Linked DNA regions of Homo sapiens: region 2 is linked to region 1. A link means that fine-mapping ties the variant in region 1 to the expression of a gene that starts in the linked region. Tissue or cell type: unexposed skin. Region 1 holds a variant in brackets; the other region holds the start of a gene. All regions are shown on one strand. Distances are between the middles of the regions.

The links. PIP is the estimated chance that this variant, and not a neighbour inherited with it, causes the effect.
Region 2: it holds the start of PSEN2, and the variant in region 1 is fine-mapped to the expression of PSEN2 in unexposed skin (GTEx, PIP 0.93).

What each region holds. Positions count from the first base shown.
Region 1 is chr1:226,894,584-226,904,737 of GRCh38, forward strand. PSEN2 (presenilin 2) reads left to right here. Exons shown (of 13, transcript NM_000447.3): 13 at 841-1,515. The coding sequence ends at 996. Among named protein-coding and RNA genes, the nearest start is that of PSEN2, 29 kb to the left of the region's middle. RefSeq lists a silencer at 1,311-1,542. The variant T/C (reference allele first, on the strand shown) is at 3,178.
Region 2 is chr1:226,865,232-226,875,385 of GRCh38, forward strand. It overlaps PSEN2 (presenilin 2), which reads left to right and starts at 5,385. Exons shown (of 13, transcript NM_000447.3): 1 at 5,385-5,418; 2 at 6,031-6,173; 3 at 10,134-10,154. LOC105373119 (a long non-coding RNA gene) reads right to left here and starts at 5,319. Exons shown (of 3, transcript XR_949226.4): 1 at 5,131-5,319. RefSeq lists silencers at 5,188-5,787, 5,798-5,847.

The DNA.
Region 1 (10,154 bases):
GTGGCCCCGTTACTGTGAACCACAGCAGTGAAATGTGGAGGCCCTGTAGTCAGTTAACGTGACCAGATACACATAATGGGGAGACGTCCTGCCGTGACTTCATCTCAGAGATTTCGCTGTCACGTTAGAGGAGGAGGAGCGTCTGAGCCGTGCGCTTGGCATCTGCCCCTTAGTGAAAACCCTGGGCATGGCATGATTAAGGTTGATGCTCCAGTGTCCAGAAGGTTTTCTTTTTGCCCACAAGTATATCAGGGATGGGATGGTGGACCCAGGCTCCTCCACCACCAGACTGCCTTACCTGAGCCCTGCTGGCCCCAAAGATATAGAAGGCACCCTGGTTCCCTGTGCTCACCTGGACCACTGCCTGCATCAGCTGGGTCAGGGGAGGATGGGCAGCCCCCACACCTGCTTCCCAGGGGCAGGTTGCCTGGCGGCTCTGATTCCCTTGGTGCCAGCTGCTGAGAACCTTACTGCCATTTCAGTTGAGCCCACCTAGCTCTCATATAAATACATGTTCCCTGAGGGCATCTTACCATCCCATGTGACCACTCCAGCCAGACAGGGGAGGCAGCACGGCCTCGGGGCACAGCACTGCTCCAGGAGTCAGGAGGCCTGCCTTCTGGTTCACTCACTAACAGGTGAGGTGATCTAATGGGGGTGAGAACTTCTGCCCTTAACACCTCAAGAGCTGTTGCAGGACCAGGGAAGATAATGGGGTGTCTAGCGCCGTTATCCGACTGGTCCTCGAACAAGCTCCTGTGCCCAGGGACTAGACCATGACTCACAGCTCCTGTCCACACCAGGGATCACCACGCTCACCCTCCCCTCCATGTCCTGCAGGGCTTGTGTCTGACCCTCCTGCTGCTTGCTGTGTTCAAGAAGGCGCTGCCCGCCCTCCCCATCTCCATCACGTTCGGGCTCATCTTTTACTTCTCCACGGACAACCTGGTGCGGCCGTTCATGGACACCCTGGCCTCCCATCAGCTCTACATCTGAGGGACATGGTGTGCCACAGGCTGCAAGCTGCAGGGAATTTTCATTGGATGCAGTTGTATAGTTTTACACTCTAGTGCCATATATTTTTAAGACTTTTCTTTCCTTAAAAAATAAAGTACGTGTTTACTTGGTGAGGAGGAGGCAGAACCAGCTCTTTGGTGCCAGCTGTTTCATCACCAGACTTTGGCTCCCGCTTTGGGGAGCGCCTCGCTTCACGGACAGGAAGCACAGCAGGTTTATCCAGATGAACTGAGAAGGTCAGATTAGGGCGGGGAGAAGAGCATCCGGCATGAGGGCTGAGATGCGCAAAGAGTGTGCTCGGGAGTGGCCCCTGGCACCTGGGTGCTCTGGCTGGAGAGGAAAAGCCAGTTCCCTACGAGGAGTGTTCCCAATGCTTTGTCCATGATGTCCTTGTTATTTTATTGCCTTTAGAAACTGAGTCCTGTTCTTGTTACGGCAGTCACACTGCTGGGAAGTGGCTTAATAGTAATATCAATAAATAGATGAGTCCTGTTAGAATCTTGGAGTTTGGTCCGTTGTAAATGTTGACCCCTCTCCCTGCATCTTGGGCACCCCTGGGATAACTTGTGCTGTGAGCCCAGGATGGAGGCAGTTTGCCCTGTTTGAAGGAACTTTTAATGATCTCGCCTCTCTGCACACATTTCTTTAACTAGAAAGTTTCCTAAGCAAAGGAGTTAGGAGAGCAGGGTGGCCTGACATCTGCCAGCCCTGAGCTGTAAGGCTGTGGATGCTGAGCAGGTCCCTGGACTCAGTTGTGCACGGTGGCACAGACACTGCCAGGTGGTTGCCAAAACATCCAGTGGTTCCTTCAGCAAGTGTTCACCCTCTGCAGAAGCCTGTGAGGGCCTGAGCTCAGAAACCACTCTCCTTTCCTTCTCTGGCTTTGGCCCTGGGCACTGTGGTGGGAGAGTGGACAGTTTGGCTTTGCCTTCTCTGTACATCAATCATGGGTTGCAAAGAGAATCTCAGAAGTGCCTCTTCCTGAGCACAGTGGCTCACACCTGTAATCCCAATACTTCGGGAGGTCGAGTCGGAAGGATCACTTGAGCCCAGGAGTTTGAGACCAGCCGGGGCAACATAGTGAGACTTTGTACAAAAAAAAATTTAAAAATTAGCCAAGCATGGTGGCATGCATCTGTAGTCTCAGCTACTCTGGAGGCTGAGGTGGGAGGATCACTTAAGCCCAGGAGGCTGAGGCTGCAATGAGCCGAGATCAAGCAGGTGTTAGGTATATCAGACAGCTGAGAAGACGCAAGTGTGCCCTGGGGTTCAAACTGGTACCCCTGTCTCCCTGTTCCAGGAATAACATGAGTGCCGGGACAATGCATCTTTATTATGAGAGGAATGAGAATTGTGTATCTTGACATTTGACAGGAGCTTGCTTTCCCCCAGGCTGTTTGAGGAAGGGCAGAGGAAAATGTGGTGCCCTAAGAAGGAAGGACAGAGGAGGCCGAACACTGGCGGGTGGAATCCCACTGATTAGTAGTGCAGGTCAGAGACCTGGGATGGGGGGCATTGCCGTCATGGAAGCCACAGCGGGGAGCGGGTAAAGCAGACAGGGATGGTCCCTGATGGTGACAACTCGCAAGAGGTTAAGGGGAAAGAAAAACTGAAAAGCTTATTCAATTTGGCAATTATGGCAGTGTTTATCTTCAGAAGAGCAGTTTTAGGGTGGGGTTTCCAAAGATGGGATTGGACATATATTTTGAATCATTAAGCTTGAGGTCTTTCAAAGGCCTGGCCAAGGGTTGCTGGGTGGAGACCACATTCAGAGGTAAAGGCAGAAATTGGGGGCCCTTAAGTAGACAGCGAGGGAGGAAGAAATGAAGGGGCCTGGTGATGGTTAGGGTGAAGTGTTAAGACTGAGAAAACAAGGACATGTGAGAAGACGAGGGAAGAGCATTGGAGAGAACAAAGACACTGGAGGAGATGCTACTTGGAGGTCCCCAGAGAGCAGGGAGACAAATGAACCCAGAACACAAATGGCAAAGAAGAAAAATGAGAGAATTTGTAAAAGACAGCATTCGAACATGCCGAACAAGAGCAGGGTACTGGTGTTCAAACACCTGTATCTCCCCCGTGTAACCCGTCAACTAATATCTTTCCATATTTGCTCCAGATTTGTCTTTAGAAATAAAACCCACGTTCTGAAGTCCTGTT[T/C]GTATGTGGCCCCAGTCCTGTTGCCTCCGCCTCCTGTCCTGAAGTCGATTTCTGCCCTTCTCATCTATGGTTAGTTTTGTTTTGTATGTTGGCATGTTTTCTTAACTTTACAGAAATGGTATCATACTGTACATATTTGATAATTTTTTAAAATATTGCATTCTGGAGGCATGTATAAATGTAGCTCCAGTTCATTTATTTTATTTATTTTTTGAGATGGAGTTTTGCTCTTGTCACCCAGGCTAGAGTGCAATGGCGTGATGTTGGCTCACTGCAACCTCTGCCTCCTGGGTTCAAGCAATTCTCCTGTCTCAATTTCCTGAGTAGCTGGGATTACAGTTGCCCGCCACCATGCCTGGCTAATTTTGTATTTTAGTAGAGACGGGGTTTCACCACGTTAGCCAGGCTGGTCTCAAACTCCTGACTGCAGGTGATCCACGCACCTTGGCCTCCAAAAGTGCTGGGATTACAGGCGTGAGCCACCGTGCCCAGCCCAGTTATTTTAACTATTGTATAGTGTTCCATTGTATGAGTTCTACTGTTTATATGCTATTGATCGACCTGTAGGGGTTTTGCAGTGTTTCTGTATTACAGCTGTGCTGCAGTGAGCATCCCATCACATTGTGTGGATTTGAGGAAGTATTGGAATTCCCCCAATTGACTGGACATTCCCAATTACCCTCCAAGTATGTGTCTGTTTATCCTTCCATCCGCAATCTGAGAGTTCCCCAACTCTATAATACTTGGTGTCATCAGACTTTTCATCTTGTCTGATTGGATGGGTGTCATTTCCTTTAGGTTTTATAATTATCTTTTCATATGTGTATTGGCTGTACAAGGTTCCTTCTCTGTTCATTATTATTAATTTTTTTAGACAGAGTCTCGCGCTGTCGCCCAGGCTGGAGTGCAGCAGCGTGATCTTGGCTCACTGCAAGCTCCGCCTCCCGGGTTCATGCCATTCTCCTGCCTCAGCCTCCTGAGTAGCTGGGATTACAGGTGCCTGCCATCACGCCCGGCTAGTTTTTTTGTATTTTGAGTAGAGATGGGGTTTCACCGTGTTAGCCAGGAGGGTCTCGATCTCCTGACCTCGTGATCCACCCGCCTCGGCCTCCCAAAGTGCTGGGATTACAGGTGTGAGTCACTGCGCCCAGCCCAAGTTTCCTTCTCTGTTACTTGTTCATATCCTCTGCCCATTTTTCACTTGGATTTTTTGTCTTACGGATATTTAAGCCTCTTAAAATATATATTCTGGAGAGATGCTAATCTTTGATTAATTATATGCATTGCAAATGTCTGGTACATTGTGGCTTGCCTCTCTTCCCTGCCTTTAGGAGTGTTTTGCTGGACCCAAGTAATTTTTAAATGTTAATGTTATTAAATCTATCAGTTTTTTGCTTGTATGGCTTATGCCATTGAATCTTGTTTTAAGAGATCCTTCCCTACCCTCAAGGTTTTCTAAATTTTTATTTTCATAATAAGATTTTTAGTTCATCTGAAATGTATTTTTATGATTGTATTTAGTAGGGACCTAATTTTGTTTTTCTTTGTAACCAGGTGTCCCAGCACTGTTTACTGAACAGTCTCTCCTTTCTCGCTGGTCTGTAGAACTCTCCTGACATATACCAAGTTTCCATAAGTGGGTGGATGGGTTCCTGAGCTCTCTACTGTTAATAGAACTTGCTCTCTCGCAGGCCAATGCCTCACCAGGTGATTGAAGCAGAGAAACTTAGGTGGTGAAAGGAGAAGATGGGGCCTGTCCTGAGAGTTTCTGTTCCTGAGATGCTAGAGGCAGAGGGTATGTAAATCTGAAGTTACACTGGATCTCCTAAAACAGTATAAAGCTACAGAAGTATAATAGTGTGGAATGGTGGTGGGAGTCAGTAAGGGTTAGGTCACTGCAGTGGTTTAAACAAGATGGGCTAGAATCCTTTCACAGGCACAGGCAGCTTGGAGAGGGTGCAATAGTGCATGGTATCAGGGGTCAGATGCCTCTTTTTCCTTTGAGATCAGTAAGTGGCTTTCACCTCATGACCTAGGCTGGCTGCTGTGTGCTAGCCGTCAAGTCACACTCCATCCAGCATGAAAGGAGGTTAGAAAAGGGTGCATTTCCTCTTCTTAAAAACATGTCTCAAAGTTGCACACAGCACTTTTGCCTATATTCAATTGGCCATTAGTCCCACGGCCATACCTGTCTGAGACTGAGAGACTGGGAAATGTCTTTATTTCAAGTGGCCATATATCCACCTAAACAAGATAAGGGATACGTGGTTATGGCGTGTCTTTTGGTTTACCAATGCAGATAATGAAGTTACCAAAACAATGAGAAAATGGGGTCGTGAGGGATCATGTGAATCACAAGCTGATGTCTTCAAAGACGGTGGAAATGGGCCCCGGGAGGCAGCAGATGACAGCAGTGGGGATTAAGGTAGACCTCCATCCTGGGGTTAAAATGAGGGGAAGGTGATGGAGCTGGACCAGCAGTCAGAATGGTCAGTGGTTAGGAGACCCTCTGCCCCCCACCGCTGCCACCATTGGCTCTCTACAGAATGCCTGCGAGTGGCTTAGAGTGACCAAGGATGAGGTGCAGATCCATGTGCACCCCCCTGCCCCCTCTGTGGACAATTTTCATGCCTGACAGCACAGTCTATGTGGATTGCAAGCCGATGAAACTATGCAAAGTAGAAGCATGCCTGCAGTTTGTGATTCGGTGATGTGTTTTATGCTTATGTGAGTCGAATGGGGCGGCAGGGTCCTGTGGTCACCCGCTGAGAAGGAAGGGTCCTGTAACCACTGCCTTTCTTTCAGCTACTTGAGAAAGGTGTTGTGAGGGACCGTGGATTTTGGGACAGCTTTGAATGGTGGTAGGGAGGAAGGGTCCGGTCTGAGTGAATGGCCAGAAAGCTGTGGGGAAGCTTTTAGGACATTGGCCAAGAGCTCCCTGAAGGCAGCCAGGGAGATACTTGTCAGTACATGTGACTAATGGCCAACTGAATATAAGCAGAAGTGCTGTGTTGCTGTGTGCAACACTGGACACCTTAGGAAGGACCTCGAGACAGTGGTTGTGGACTCTGTAGAGAGTAACAGTGACAGTAGCAAACCCTTACCCAGTGCCAACCTTGTGCTAGGCTCGCACTAAATGAGTTTACCTTCAATTCTCGTAACAATAGGAGGTAACTACTATTCTAATTTCCATTTTATAGATGAGGAAACTAAGGCACAGAGATCACTGACTTGCCCAAAATCAAGCAGGGAGTAGTTAGTATATAAGCCCACGGTATGTGGTTTGTAGAATAGGTGCTCTTGACTAGCAGAAATAGGTCCTCCCTGCAGTGTGTAATTGATAACAAGCATGGGCTGCCATCTTCCTGTCGAGGCCACTCAAAACACCCAACAGGCTACGCACGGTGGCTCACACCTGTAATCCCAGCACTGTGGGAGGCCGAGGTGGGCGGGTCACCTGAGGTCAGGAGTTCGAGACCAGCCTGGCCGACATGGTGAAACTCCGTCTCTACTAACAGTACAAAAATTAGCTGGGCGTGGTGGCGGGCACCTGTAATCCCAGCTACTCAGGAGGCTGAGACAGAAGAATCACTTGAACCAGGGAGGCAGAGGTTGCAGTGAGACAAGATCACGCCATTGCACTCCAGCCTGTGTGACAAAAGCGAAACTGTCTCAAAAAAAAAAAAAAAAAAAGTATGATTTTATAATCCCAGCACCTTGGGAGGCTGAGTCGTGAGAATCACTTGAGCCCAGGAGTTTAAGACCAATCTAGGCAACATGGCAAGACCCCATCTCTGCCAAAAATAAAAAATAGTCTAATTTTAGCTATTCATGTGTGTGTGAAGTGGTGTCTCTTCGTGGCTTTGATCTGCATTTCCCTAATGCTGACTAATGACGTTGGGCACCTGTTCATGTGCTTACTGGTCAGATATCTTTCTTTTGTTACATTTTATTAAGTTTTAAAATTTAAAGTCAAAGATTTCCCTATGAGAATGACTTTTAAAATGACCAAAAAGGGGAAGATAACATTAATTCTTGAAGAGAAGGCCTCTGAGAAAAATACAGTTGTAGCAAGCTGCTACTTTGCAAATGACCCATGCATTTTAATTTTCCCCTAAGGAAGGCCAAGGAAGAGTCTTATCACCTCAGGGCAGGAGATGTAGGGACTTGGGTCATTTAATAAGAGTGGTAGGTTTGAAAACTCAAACCCAGAAGACTCCTTAGAGTTTCTCCCAGGAGGTAGGGAAGGGGCCGCATCCATGGAGAGAGGAGGATGTGACTTAGAGCAGTGGTCCCCAATCTTTAGGGACCAGGGACTGGTGTCATGGTAGACAGTTTTTCCACAGATAGGGGTTGGGGGGATGATTTGGAGCTGAAACTGCTCCACCTCAGGTCATCAGGCATTAGATTCTCATGTGGAGTGTGCCACTTAGATCCTTGGCGTGCACAGTTCACAATGGGGTTCGAGGTCCTATGAGAATCCGATGCCACTGATTTGACAGGAGGCGGAGCTCAGGTGGTAATGCTCATCTCCACCGCTTACCACCTGCTGTGCAGCCTGGTTCCTAATAGGCTATAGACTGGTACTGGTCCATGGCCTGGGGGTTGGGGACCCCTGATTTAGAGGAAGTAAGGGCATGGCTTACCGTGGGCCCTGGGGTGTTCTGGGAATGGGGAGGATGGAGAGAAGAGAGGAGGTAGGGAAGACCTCCCCTTGCTCCCCATTTGGGATTTGGGGAGAAAGTCAGGTCTCAGGCTCAACAGTACCTGATCCTGTACCATCTTCCAAAGGGAAGTCAGTGGGGTTGGAAGGTAGGCAGGGGTTATCTTCTCTGAGCCACGGCACAAGACAGAAGTTTCCCACCATTCCTGAGGGGGCAGGTGGTAGGTCCCCAAGCAGAGAGCCAGCAGTCCCTCTCTGAGGCCTGCAATGGAATGGGGTGGGGTGTCCACTGAGCCAAGGGTCTGTCAGTGAGAGCTGGGGAGGCTGGGCTGGCTTGCAAGCACCTGTTATAACCAAACCAGGAAATCAGGTTCCGAGTCTTGCCAGCAAGGGCCTACAGCTGCCAGCAGAGATGGACAGCCAGGAGACCCCAATTGGCCACCCAGAGCCACCCTCCTCTGCCTACCCCACCCTCCAGTACTCCAGAGCCTACTCGGAGGGGAACAGAAACCTGAGAGGCTGAACACACACACATGGAGAAACAAACGTAGTAAAATATTTGGGGAATCAGGAAGAATTATTTGTACTATTCCTGCAACCTTTCTATAGGCTTGAAATTATCAAAATAAATTTTTAAAAATTGTAATAACATTCTCATACTAAAACACTGAGTTTTTTTCTTTCATTTTTTGATTTTTTCTTTTTGACTCCAGCATGACTTACTCTAACAATGGGTGGTCTCGATTTTGAAATACTTTCTTCTCCAAGCCTTTCATGACACCCTGTCTCTGTTGGTTCTGAAAATGTTGGATTTTGTCTCAGCCCTTGCTTCTGGAAACAGCCAAGGTTAAGAAAACCCCCCATGCTTTGTGTTCTAGCAGACAGCTTCCTGCAAAGAGCCATCTTCCCAGAGCACTTAGGCCTCTTAGATGTCTCCCTTGTTTAATTATGACAAGAGCACACACACAGACCCTCCAAATTCCCATTCTTAGTCTTCTAAATGATTAGCTGAGCTGCTTTTCCCCACTGATTAATCGGAATAAAATGCTCATTAACCAAACTTCCCTCCTTTCCCCAGGTCCCTAAACTTTCCTGAGTCGGCAGACATCCCCTCTGGAGAAGAGGTTGGCCCCAGAGTCGAACATCCTCTGATCTACCTGATCCTGCTGCCCTTCCATTCCACTTCCCCACATCTGTTCTTTCTGGTCGTGTTTACTCCCCTATTAAAAAAACAAAACCAGAAAACGTGTTTGCCTAGATCTTGAGACTCTGGAAGATCTTAACAGTCAGAGGTTCCCCCTATTTGCAATGATCTCCTTTCCTGCCCCTTCCTATCCTTGCAATAATCCTTTTGAATAAAGTCTCTCCTTACTAAATCCAGTTCCTAAAAATTAATTTTTTTAGAGACAGTGTCTCGCTTTGTCACCCAGGCTGGAATGCAGTGGCATGATCATAGCTCACTGCAACCTCGAATTCCTGGGCTCAAGCAATCCTCCTGCCTCAACTGAGGCTACATGCATGCACCATCATGCCTTGCTAATTTTTTTTAATTTTTGTCGAGACAGGGTCTTGCTATATTGCCCAGGCTGGTCTGGAACTCCTGGCCTTAAGTGATTGTCCAGCCTCAACCTCCCAAAGCGCTGGGATTCAAGCATGAACCACCGCACCCAGCTCCAATTTTATTTTGTTTGGCAGTTTCCTCCTACTCTTCTTCCCTCCTCCTGCTCATTCCTTGGCCATTTTCCAGCTGCTGCTCTGCTTTTACCCTAGATGCACATTTTCAGGGCTCAGTTCTCATTCCTCTTCTCTGCTTGCTCCTCCTCTCTTCCCAGTGTGATCCTATCCATTCACGTGGCTTTCACAAGCGAGTTGCCTTCCCCAGTATCCCTCCTAGCAGATCCTGCTGTGCTCAGGGTGTCCTCCTGCATATTTAGCACTGCTCACCTCCCAGGGTCCTGGGCACTTAGGAGTGGCCATGTGACTCAGCTCTGCCAAAGTCTAGTGCTTGGGTCTTCCAGAAAAGCTATTGTTCTCCTGGTTTTAAAGGCGGGGAGGGGCGCCTCAGCCATAATCTGCCATTTTTTCCTTGCATGGGACACAGATGTGATGCTTTGAGATGTCACAGCTGCTTAGCGACCACCAGGATGAAAGCCGCAGGCAAAGCGTGTATGACAGAGAAGGAAACCACAAGTAGCTGCCCCAGCCACCCCTGGACTTCTTTTCTGTTTGTTTGTTTGTTTGTTTTGAAATGGAGTCTCACTCTGTCACCCAGGCTGGAGTGTAGTGGTGCCATCTTGGCTCACTGCAACCTCTG
Region 2 (10,154 bases), 29 kb before region 1:
AGGAGGTAAAGTCTAGGGAAAATGGAAAGAGTGGCTTGGCTAAGTGTCTAAGGAATGCCTCAGCTCAGAGCCAATCTGCCAAGATCAGAAGATTTTTCTTTTGTGTTTGGTCCAGGTGTTTTTAGTCCAGGTATTTAAGGAAATCTGTGTCAACTGTGGCTGACCACTGAGGTAACAGATCAAAGACTTCAGTGTCTACATATAAAGAATGCAGTCTGCAAAAATCATATGGAAATGTCACTAAACAAAGAAGACTGCAGCCCTTAATAAGCAATAACAGCAAATCTTGCAAAGGGCAAAGAATCTGATTTCCAGAGTTATCACATTATAATATTCAAAATGACCAGTTTTTTTCTTTCAATCAGCTTCCTCAGGTTGAAATGTCGTTTTTAACAGCAGCAAAAAAAATTAGAAGGCATACCAAGAAAAAAAGAAAAGTATAACCCATTCACAGGAAAAAGAAACTGACAGAAGCCATCCGTGAGGAAGCCTAGACATTGAACTTGCCAGGCAAAGAGGGCTGGACTGTTCAGCCCTACCCCTTGACCTCCTGGGTCAATGATTTTATGGCCAATGATGTTGATCAATCAATGGTGCCTACGCAATAAAACTTCCATAAACACCCCCAAATGGCTACGTCTGGGGAGCTTCTGCTAACTTCAGGTACATATTATCAGAATTGAATTGAATTGTAGGACACACACTTGGTGTCTGGAGAATTGTTTTTGTGTGGAATAAAAAAACCACACACTTGGTGTCAGAAGTGTTGTGAGAAAAAATAGTTCAGAGAAGTATTCCCTCCTCTTCTATTTCTTAGTAGAGTTTGAGAATTGGTGTTAATTTTTCTTTAAAGGTTTGGCAGAAAATTCACCAAGCTGAAGCCATCTGGTCCTGCTTTAGGGGAGGTTTTTGATTACTGATTCAACCTTTTTTTTTTTTGTTTGTTTTTGAGATGGAGTCTCGCTCTGTCACCCAGACTGGAATGCAGTGGCTCAATCTCGGCTCACTGCAAGCTCCGCCTCCCGGGTTCATGCCATTCTCCCGACTCAGCCTCCTGAGTAGCTGGGACTACAGGCGCCTGCCACCACACCCGGCTTTTTTTTTTTTTTTTTTAGTAGAGATGGGGTTTCACCGTGTTAGCCAGGATGGTCTCAATCTCCTGACCTCGTGATCTGCTGGTCTCAATCTCCTGACCTCGTGATCTGCCCGTCTCAGCCTCCCAAAGTGCTGGGATTACAGGCTTGAGCCATCGTGCCTGGCCTTACTGATTCAACCTCTTATTGGATTCAATCTCTTTACTTTTCCTAGCTTGTTCAGATTTATTTCTTCCTGAGTCAGTTTTGGTCATTTGTGTACAGTTGTTCACAGTATTCACTTAAAATGCTTTTTTTTTTTTTTCCTGTAAGGTCCATAGTGATGCCCCTACTTTCATGTCTGATTTTAGTTATTTGCATCTTTACTCTTTATTTCTCAGTCTAGCTAAAGATTTGTCAGTGTTGTTCATCTTTTCAAAATTTTCATTTCAGCTATTGTACTTTTCAGCTCCAGAATTTTGATTTGGTTTATTTTTCATAATTTGTCTCTTTGCTGATATTCTGTTTATACATTTATTGTTTACCTGGCTTCCTTTAGTTCTTTGTCCATGGTTTCCTTTAGTTAGTTAAGCATATTTAAGACCATTTAAATAAACGTTTAAGTAAACTTTTAAACATTTAAATAAAAGTCTTTGTCTAGCAAGTTCAATGTCTAGGCCTCCCCAGGGATGGTTTCTATCAATTTCTTTTTCCTGTGAATGGGTTGTACTTTTCTTTTTTCTTGGTATGCTTCCTATTTTATTTATTTATTTACTTTTTGGTTAAAAACTGGGCACTTCGGGCCTGGCATGGTGGCTCACGCCTGTAATCCCAGCACTTTGGGATGCCGAGGTGGGTGGGTCACAAGGTCAGGCATTCGAGACCATCCTGGCCAACATAATGAAACCCTGTCTCTACTAAAAATACAAAAAATTAGCTGGGTGTGGTGGTGGGTGCCTGTAATCCCAGCAACTCGGAAGGCTGAGGCAGGAGAATCGCTTGAACCTGGGAGGTGGAGGTTGCAGGCTGCTGAGATCGCGCCACTGCACTCCAGCCCTGGTGACAGTGGGAGTCTCTGTCTCAAAAAAAAAAAAAAAAACAAAAACTGGGCACTTCAACCTGAAAAAGCTGATTGAAAGAAAAAAAAACCTGGGCATTTTGAATATTATAATGTGGTAACTCTGGAAATCAGATCCTGTTAATGCTTATTAAGGGCTGCAGTCTTCTGTTTGTTTAGATCATGCCTTAGTCTTTCTGGCCACCAGCCCCTATCCTGAAGCTAGTCAGGGGTCCCCAGCCACCAGTCATTTCATTAGCATACCAACAACATTCATCACACCTGAGATTCCAAAGGTTTTAGAAGCTTGTGCCAGGAACGGGGATAAAGACCAAATATTTATTTTTATTATATCACAACTTCCTAACTCATTTATTGAGTCATTATGCTTCACCTTAGGGCATATGCAGCCTCTTCACATTAGGGGAAATTCAGCCTATCAAGTGCAACACTGAAAGCTAAATAACAACAACACAACAACAACCAATCAGGGATGGGCGCGGTGGCTCATGCCTGTAATCTAATCCCAGCACTTCAGGAGACCGAAGCGGGAGGGTCACTTCAGGTCAGGAATTCGAGACCACCCTGGTCAACATGGCAAAAACCCCCTCTCTACTAAAATTACAAAAATTAGCTGGGCAGGGTGGCACATACCTGTAATTCCAGCTAACTTGGGAGGCTGAGGCAAGAGAATCACTTGAACTTGGGAGGCAGAGGTTGCAGTGATCTGAGATCGTGCCACTGCACTCCAGCCTGGGCGAAAAAGCAAGACCCTGTTTCAAAACAACAACAACAACAAACCAGGTTGGGGAGTTATTTCCCAGGAATTCTGTAGCAAGGGCTCATATGCATCAGTTAGAGTTGGACTTTGTGACCTTCAGGTGTCCTTCCTTTTCCAAGAATCGATTATTTTTATAATTCTGTTAAATGTAATTAATTTCTCAAATTTATCAAAGATCATTATTTGGACCATTATTTTCTTAGCCAAAATGCTGGCCTGCCCCAGTTCCATCCAGGGTTAATCTGCATTTAAACAGCTCTTTGAAAATATTTGGTTTTCCCCATCCATCTATGGCCAATTGATTTTTGACAAGAAGCCAAGACAATTCAATAGGAAAAGGACAATCTCTTCAACGAATGGTGCTGGGACAACTAGAAGTCCACATGCAAAACAATGAACTTGGACCCTAACCTCACACTACATACAAAAATTATCTTAAAATGGATCAACAACCTAAATATAGGAGCTAAAACTATAAAACTCTTAGAAGAAAACACAGGAGTAAATCTTCACAACCTTGGATTTGACAATGATATCTCACACAGGACACCAAATGCACAAACAACAAAAGAAAAAACAGTTAAGCTGAAGTTCATCAAAATTAAAGTTTTATGTGCATGAAAGGACATCAGAAAGTGAAAAAGACAATTACAGAATGGGAGAGAAATATTTGCAAAGCATATATCTGATAAGGGTCTAGTGTCCAGAATATATAAAGAACTCTTACAACCCAACAACAAAAAGACAACCCAATTTTAAAATGGGCAAAGGACTTGAATAGGCATGTCTCCAAAGAAGATATACAGATGGCCAACAAACACATGAAAAGGAGAATGCTTAATAGCATTAGTTATTAGGAAAATGTAAACCAAAACCAGAATGAGGTACCGCTGCACACCTACTAGGATAACAATAAAATGGAAAATAACAAGTGTTGGTGAGGATGTGGAGAAATTGGGATCCTGTACATTGCTGGTAGGAATATAAAATGGTTCAGCCATCGTGGAAACCACTTGGGGTTCCCCAAATAGTTAAACACTGAAGGCTGGGCACGGTGGCTCATGCCTATAATCCAGCACTGTGGGAGGCCAAGGCAGGCAGATAACTTGAGTTCAGGATCAAGACCAGCCTGGCCAACATGGGGAAACCCCATCTCTACTAAAAATACAAAAATTAGCCAGATGTGGTGGCACACACCTGTAACTCCAGCTACTCAGGAGGCCGAGGCAAGATAATTGCTCGAACCTGGGAGGCAGAGGTTGCAGTGAGCCAAGATTGCGGCCACTGCACTCTAGGCTGGGCAACAGAGCAAGGCTCTGTCTCAAAAAAAAAAAAAAATTGAATTACCATGCGATCCAACAATTCAACCCCTATGTATGTACCCTCCCCAAATAAAAATGGGCTCTCAAACAAATACATGTACATGCATGTTCATGGTAGCATTATTCACAAAGCCAAAAGATGCAAACAGCCCCAATGTCCATAGATGAATAAACTGTGGCATACATGATACACACACACACACGCACACACATATACATATACACACACAAACACTATTCAGTCATAAAAAGGAATAAAGTCTGTTACATGCTACCTGAGGATGAACCTCGAAAACATGCTAAGTGAAAGACACAAAAGTCCACACACTGTGATTCCGTTTATATGAAGTATCTAAAGTAAGTAAATATAGAGACAGAAGTAGACTGGTAATTGCCAGGGGCTGGGGGGGAAGAGGGCATTGGGAAGAAACTTCTCAATGGGTATGGGGTTTTTCTTTCGGAATGAGGAAAATGTTTTGGAACTAGACAGAGGTGGTGGTTGCACAGCATTGTGAATTCACTAAATGCCACTGAAATGCCCACTTTAAAATGGTAAATTTTATGTTATGTGAATTTCACCTTAAGTTAAAAAAAAAAAAGTAAAACTACTCAGACAACGCCAAATTATTGACAATCTCAACCTACCCCACAGACCCCAAATCCTGGAACCACAACCCCCTAGGCCAATTCTCAGGTCAGGCAGCAATTTATTCCTGTTCAATTTTATGCAGAGCTCCTGGTGGCTCTGAAGCGCCCTAGGGAACAGACCAGGAACATTCTCATGGTGTTAGCTCACATTGGGCCATTAGTGCTCCTTTAATGTGAGAACAACCGGGAGGAGGAGGGGATGTGGACCCAAAACTACAAGAAAGAGTGTCCTCGAAGCCTATGTCCTACCGCCCCACGCTGCTGCCAGGCCCGCAGGAAGATGACAGGCCCGGCCTCCACTCCTTCTAAGGTCGTCGCTTAGTTCCGACGTCGGGATGACCCTGTCATCCACGCGGCGTGAAGGCCACCCTCCCCGCGCGCCCGGGACTCCAGGTGGGGCCCCAGTGGACGAGGGAACGCGGCGTCGCCCACCGGGCGTGGCCTGGGCGGGCGTGGGGCGGGGCCTGGGCCGGCGCCGGGTCCGGCCGGGCGCTCAGCCAGCTGCGTAAACTCCGCTGGAGCGCGGCGGCAGAGCAGGTGAGCGGGCGGTGCCGGGGGGTGCCCAGGCCAGGGCCCTGTCGCCTGCGGCGCTGAGGGCCCGGGGTGGGGCTGCGCCCTGAGGGCCCTGCCCTGCCCTCCGCACGCCTCTGGCCACGGTCCCTTCCCCGGCTGTGGGTCTGCGGCCCCTGCGTGCGCAGCGCTCCTGGCCTCTGCGGCCAGCGCGGGGGCGGAGAGAGGAGAGTGCCCGGCAGGCGGCGGCTGGGCCGGCCCGGAACTGGGTCGTGGAAGGATCGCGGGGAGCGGCCCTCAGGCCTTCGGCCTCACTGCGTCCCCACTTCCCTGCGCCCGCCTGCCGCCGAGCCCCGGCTGGGGGTGGGCGCGGCGCGAGCGGTTAAAGGGCCGGTGCATTTAAAGGAGCGGTGCACGTGGGTCTCTGAGGCGTGTAGCAGGCGGGGGCGTTTTGTTCTTCTTCTCTCTCGCCGGAGACCTCCGTTGCGCCGAGTCCATTCGGCCTCTAGCACCGGGTCCTGGGCATGCTTTCCCCGGGAAGGAGGCGCGCGGGGGCTCTGCCCGCACGTGAGGGGCAGGGCCGCAGGCTCAAGCCTAGAGCCGGTTTCTGTTAGCAGCGGTGTTTGGCTGTTTTATCAGGCATTTCCAGCAGTGAGGAGACAGCCAGAAGCAAGCTTTTGGAGCTGAAGGAACCTGAGACAGAAGCTAGTCCCCCCTCTGAATTTTACTGATGAAGAAACTGAGGCCACAGAGCTAAAGTGACTTTTCCCAAGGTCGCCCAGGTACGATATAGCAGAGCCAGGCTTCGACCCCAGTGTCCTGGCTTCTAGATCTGCTGTCCATCCCTCCGAGCAGACCTCACCCCTGTTTATTGCCTTAATAAGTATTCCCTTTGAAAGGTATGAACGGTGTTGAGTGAAGTAACTGCATCCCTATTTACAAATGGAGAACCTGAGAGCATTCCATAGAGACGATTGTAGACTAACTTAACTCAGAAGCGACAGCCTGGGGTTGCCAAGGCTGTCTACGAAGTAACTTGATTAGGACCGACCCCAGCTTCCAGTAAGGAAGCCTCTGATGCCTCTGTAGCCAATTCTGCAGACACCTGAGCCTCCAAGGCCTTCAGCCAAGACCTTTGGCGGTAATTGGAGTCTCGGGATAAGCTGCTTCAGGTGTGTGAGCCTCAGGTTCTTCTCTCCTGAATGTGGTTGTGGGCAGCCGGTGACTGGCGCAGGTGCAGAAGGGGCCTGGTTCTTGGCCCCACCTCAGAGCTGCGTCCTCACGACGCCCACGTTGAGCCTTGGGTTCCAGGGCAGAGACTGGAGTGAGGGCTTGGGGGCATGTTGCTTTGAAGTGGGATGGATGTATCAGGTTTTTGGGGAAAACTCTGTACCCTTTGGTGTTGAAGTGCCCATGTGCCAAGTCTTGAGTCCAGCATGTTCACATGTGGGGAGTGAGTGGCTTGTTCCTGTCTATTTGAAAGAGCAGCAAGGAGGAGGAGGAGCAAGGGCTAGGGGCTGCTGCTGGGGTGCCTGGAGCTGTGGTGCATAATGTCACACCTGTCTCCCCTCCGTAGCTGCTCACCGTCCCCCCAAGGGGGGTTTGCCTCTTGCCTACTTTGGCCTTTCTCTGTTATCGATGTTAATAATGACATATATCTCGCTTATGAGTTGGTCATAATAAAAAGCTATCTTGTACAGAATATTAGAATTTAAGATCTTAAGAATTTCAATGACACTGAAATAGTTTATTATTACCTTTTTACAGAAGAGGAAACAAGTTCAGGGAGTTAAGCAGCTAGTCCAGTTATGTGGCTTCAGTGCTTTAAGCACCAGGATTTGAACATAGCTGGCTACACTGTCTTTATCTCTTGAGTTTTTGCGCAGGAGGTTCCTGTATTCAACTCCTACCCGTGTCTCTCCACTACTGCTGGGAAAGTTTTGTGGAGTCCCCATGAGCAACTTCCTGACAAACAAACAAAATTTTTTTAAAGAAACCAAAGCAGTGTGTGTAGGTCACATGCAGTGTGTCTAATGAAAACATCTCTGGCGGGTTTTCAGCTGTTGCTTTGACTTTCGGACACTGTTTAGTTGGGGACTGATAAGACAGCAAATATTTCTGCAAGTATTCCCACCTGTTCTATTCCCAGCTGCCACAGCTGCGGAAAGGCGGGGGTGAGGCTGAGAGGCCCCGAGAGGAACATTTTCCACTGGGCTCCAATCCTGGAGATGGGATGACCATCATGTTAATGTCTGGAGAAAAGAATGATTTCAGGCTGGGTGCTGTGGCTCATGTCTGTAATCCCAGCACTTTGGGAGGCCGAGGTGGGTGGATCACCTGAGGTCGGAAGTTTGAGACCAGCCTGACCAACATGGAGAAACCCCATCTTTACTAAAAATACAAAATTAGCCGGGCGTGGTGGCACATGCCTGTAATCCCAGCTACTCAGGAGGCTGAGGCAGGAGAATCGCTTGAACCCAGGAGGCGGAGGTTGCAGTGAGCCGAGATCGGGCCATGGCACTCCAGCCTGGGCAACAAGAGCAAAACTCCATCTCAAAAAAAAAAAAATGGTTTCACATCAGTCCTCAGGAAAGATCAGATGTCAGTGAGGGAGATCATTTCTTGAGAGCCTCTTCACTGAGTGGGAGAATGGGCTGCTTGTTCATCTTTGTGAAAATTCTAGAACGGGAAGAACAATTCAAAGGGTGTCCACCATTCTGCTGTACCTTAACCAGAAACTTACTGGACTCTTTTTAAAATAAAAGTAATTCATGTTTATTCTAGAAAATTAGGGAAAAAAAATTTTTTTTGAGATGGAGTTTCACTCTTGTTGCCCAGGCTGGAGTGCGATGGTATGATCTCAGCTAACTGCAACCTCTGCTTGCCGGGTTCTAGCGACTCTCCTGCCTCAGCCTCCTGGGTAGCTGGGATTACAGGTGCCTGCCACCACTCCCAGCTAATTTTTGTATTTTTATTAGAGGCGGGGTTTCACCATGTTGGCCAGGCTGGTCTCAAACTCCTGACCTCAGGTGATCCGCCAACCTTGGCCTCCCAAAATGCTGGTATTACAAGCATAAGCCATTGCGCTGGGCTGAGATAACCACTCTTAACATGCATTTCCTTCCACACTGTTCACATATGCATATTTATCTATTAAAACAATAGAGGGAGGGAACCGTAGGTGAAGTTTGTGTATCCTGTTTTTTCTGTTATGCCTTCAGAATTTTCCTTTTATTGAGTACTCATGGAAAAGCAGATTTGATGGCTGTGTAGAGCATTTGAATTATTTATCCTACCAGTCCCACAGCAGGACACTTTCCCACCCTCCCTTTTGCCCCAGAGAAGCAGTGCCCTCTGTCCTCCCCATGCCCATATGTGGGCACTCCCCACCATGGAGCCAAACCTACCTGGGCAAGTAGCAGAGGGAGAGCAGAGTGAGCCCTGGGGGCAGGAGAGAGACTTGAGAGTTTTGAGGTGACAGATGAGCTGGTGAGTGAGTGATTAGGGAGCATTTCTTGACACATACCTGCCCGTGGTGAAGGCATGTGTCTTGTGAGTGTGCTCCCAGAAAGCCTGTGTAGTGTGTGGTGGGCCTGCCTGTGTGACCAAACCCTGGCCACTGGGTACGTGACCCTCACAAGTGCTGACTGGGCTGAGAAGAGCTCCTTGATGGGCAGTTTGGAGACTTGAGTTGTAACTGTGGCTTTTGGCCATGGGACATTAACTGATTACTTTTGCCCCTCTAGGCTTCAGTTGTCCTTAATTATAATACAGGGAGCTGACTAGGTGGCGTTGATGGCCTTTACGGTCCTTGCCAGCTCTGACATTGTCCTATGGATATGTCCTTTCATTTGATAATATGTTTACGTGGCCATAGTGCCTGGGGCTGGGCCGGGAATGGAAACTTGATCTCTGGGGCCTGGCCTTTGAAGCCAGTTCATGTGTCTGGTGGTTCAGCAGATCCGTAACTTTCCAAGAGGCACATCCATAGGCTACCGTGTCCTTTCTCACTGTGTCCCTCCTCCATTTCATCTTCTTTATAACTACGACTTATTGAACATCTACTGTGTGCTGGACACTTTACAGGTTATCTCTAGGTTTTACGATAATCTTGCAAGGTATGCCTGTTCTGCTTTTTACAGCAGAGGAAATGAGCTGTGTCAGATTAGACTGTCTGAGGCCTCTTGGCCAGGGAGTATGTGGTTCAAATCACATAGGCAGGCGATCTGAACCCTGTCAGTCTCCAAAGCCTCTGCTTTTGACCGCTGACTTGCTGCTGCTTGTTTAAAAATAAATGTGTTTCTGGAGCCTACTCCAGAGGGGCGTGCTAGGGGCTCCCTCTCCCACTTCCCCACAAACCACCCTTTTCCCTGGCTGCTTCAGGAAATGAGAGAACTCTGCCTGGGCCCCAGGCACTTCTGAGTGGGACAGGGCTGTTAGAGGTAAGTCTAGAGCCTGGCCCAAAATTCAGGAGGCCCCATCAGAGGGCCCCTGGGGCCTGTGGTCCGGGAGGGTGGTAGGGCAGTACCTCACTTCCCTTTGAGACTCAGGCCCCAGCTCTGGCTTAGGCCAGGGAGAACCATCCCCAAGTGGTATGTGTTACTATATGAGCTGAGATGGATGGTCAGCTGGACCAAATACATAGTCGGGTACCCAGGGCCAGGGGGAGGAAGGTGAGCAGGGAAGCTGTGGGCAATTGTCTGGGTATCACCTGACCTTAGCAAACTCTTCCTTGTTTTAAGCGAGGACGTGGGACTTCTCAG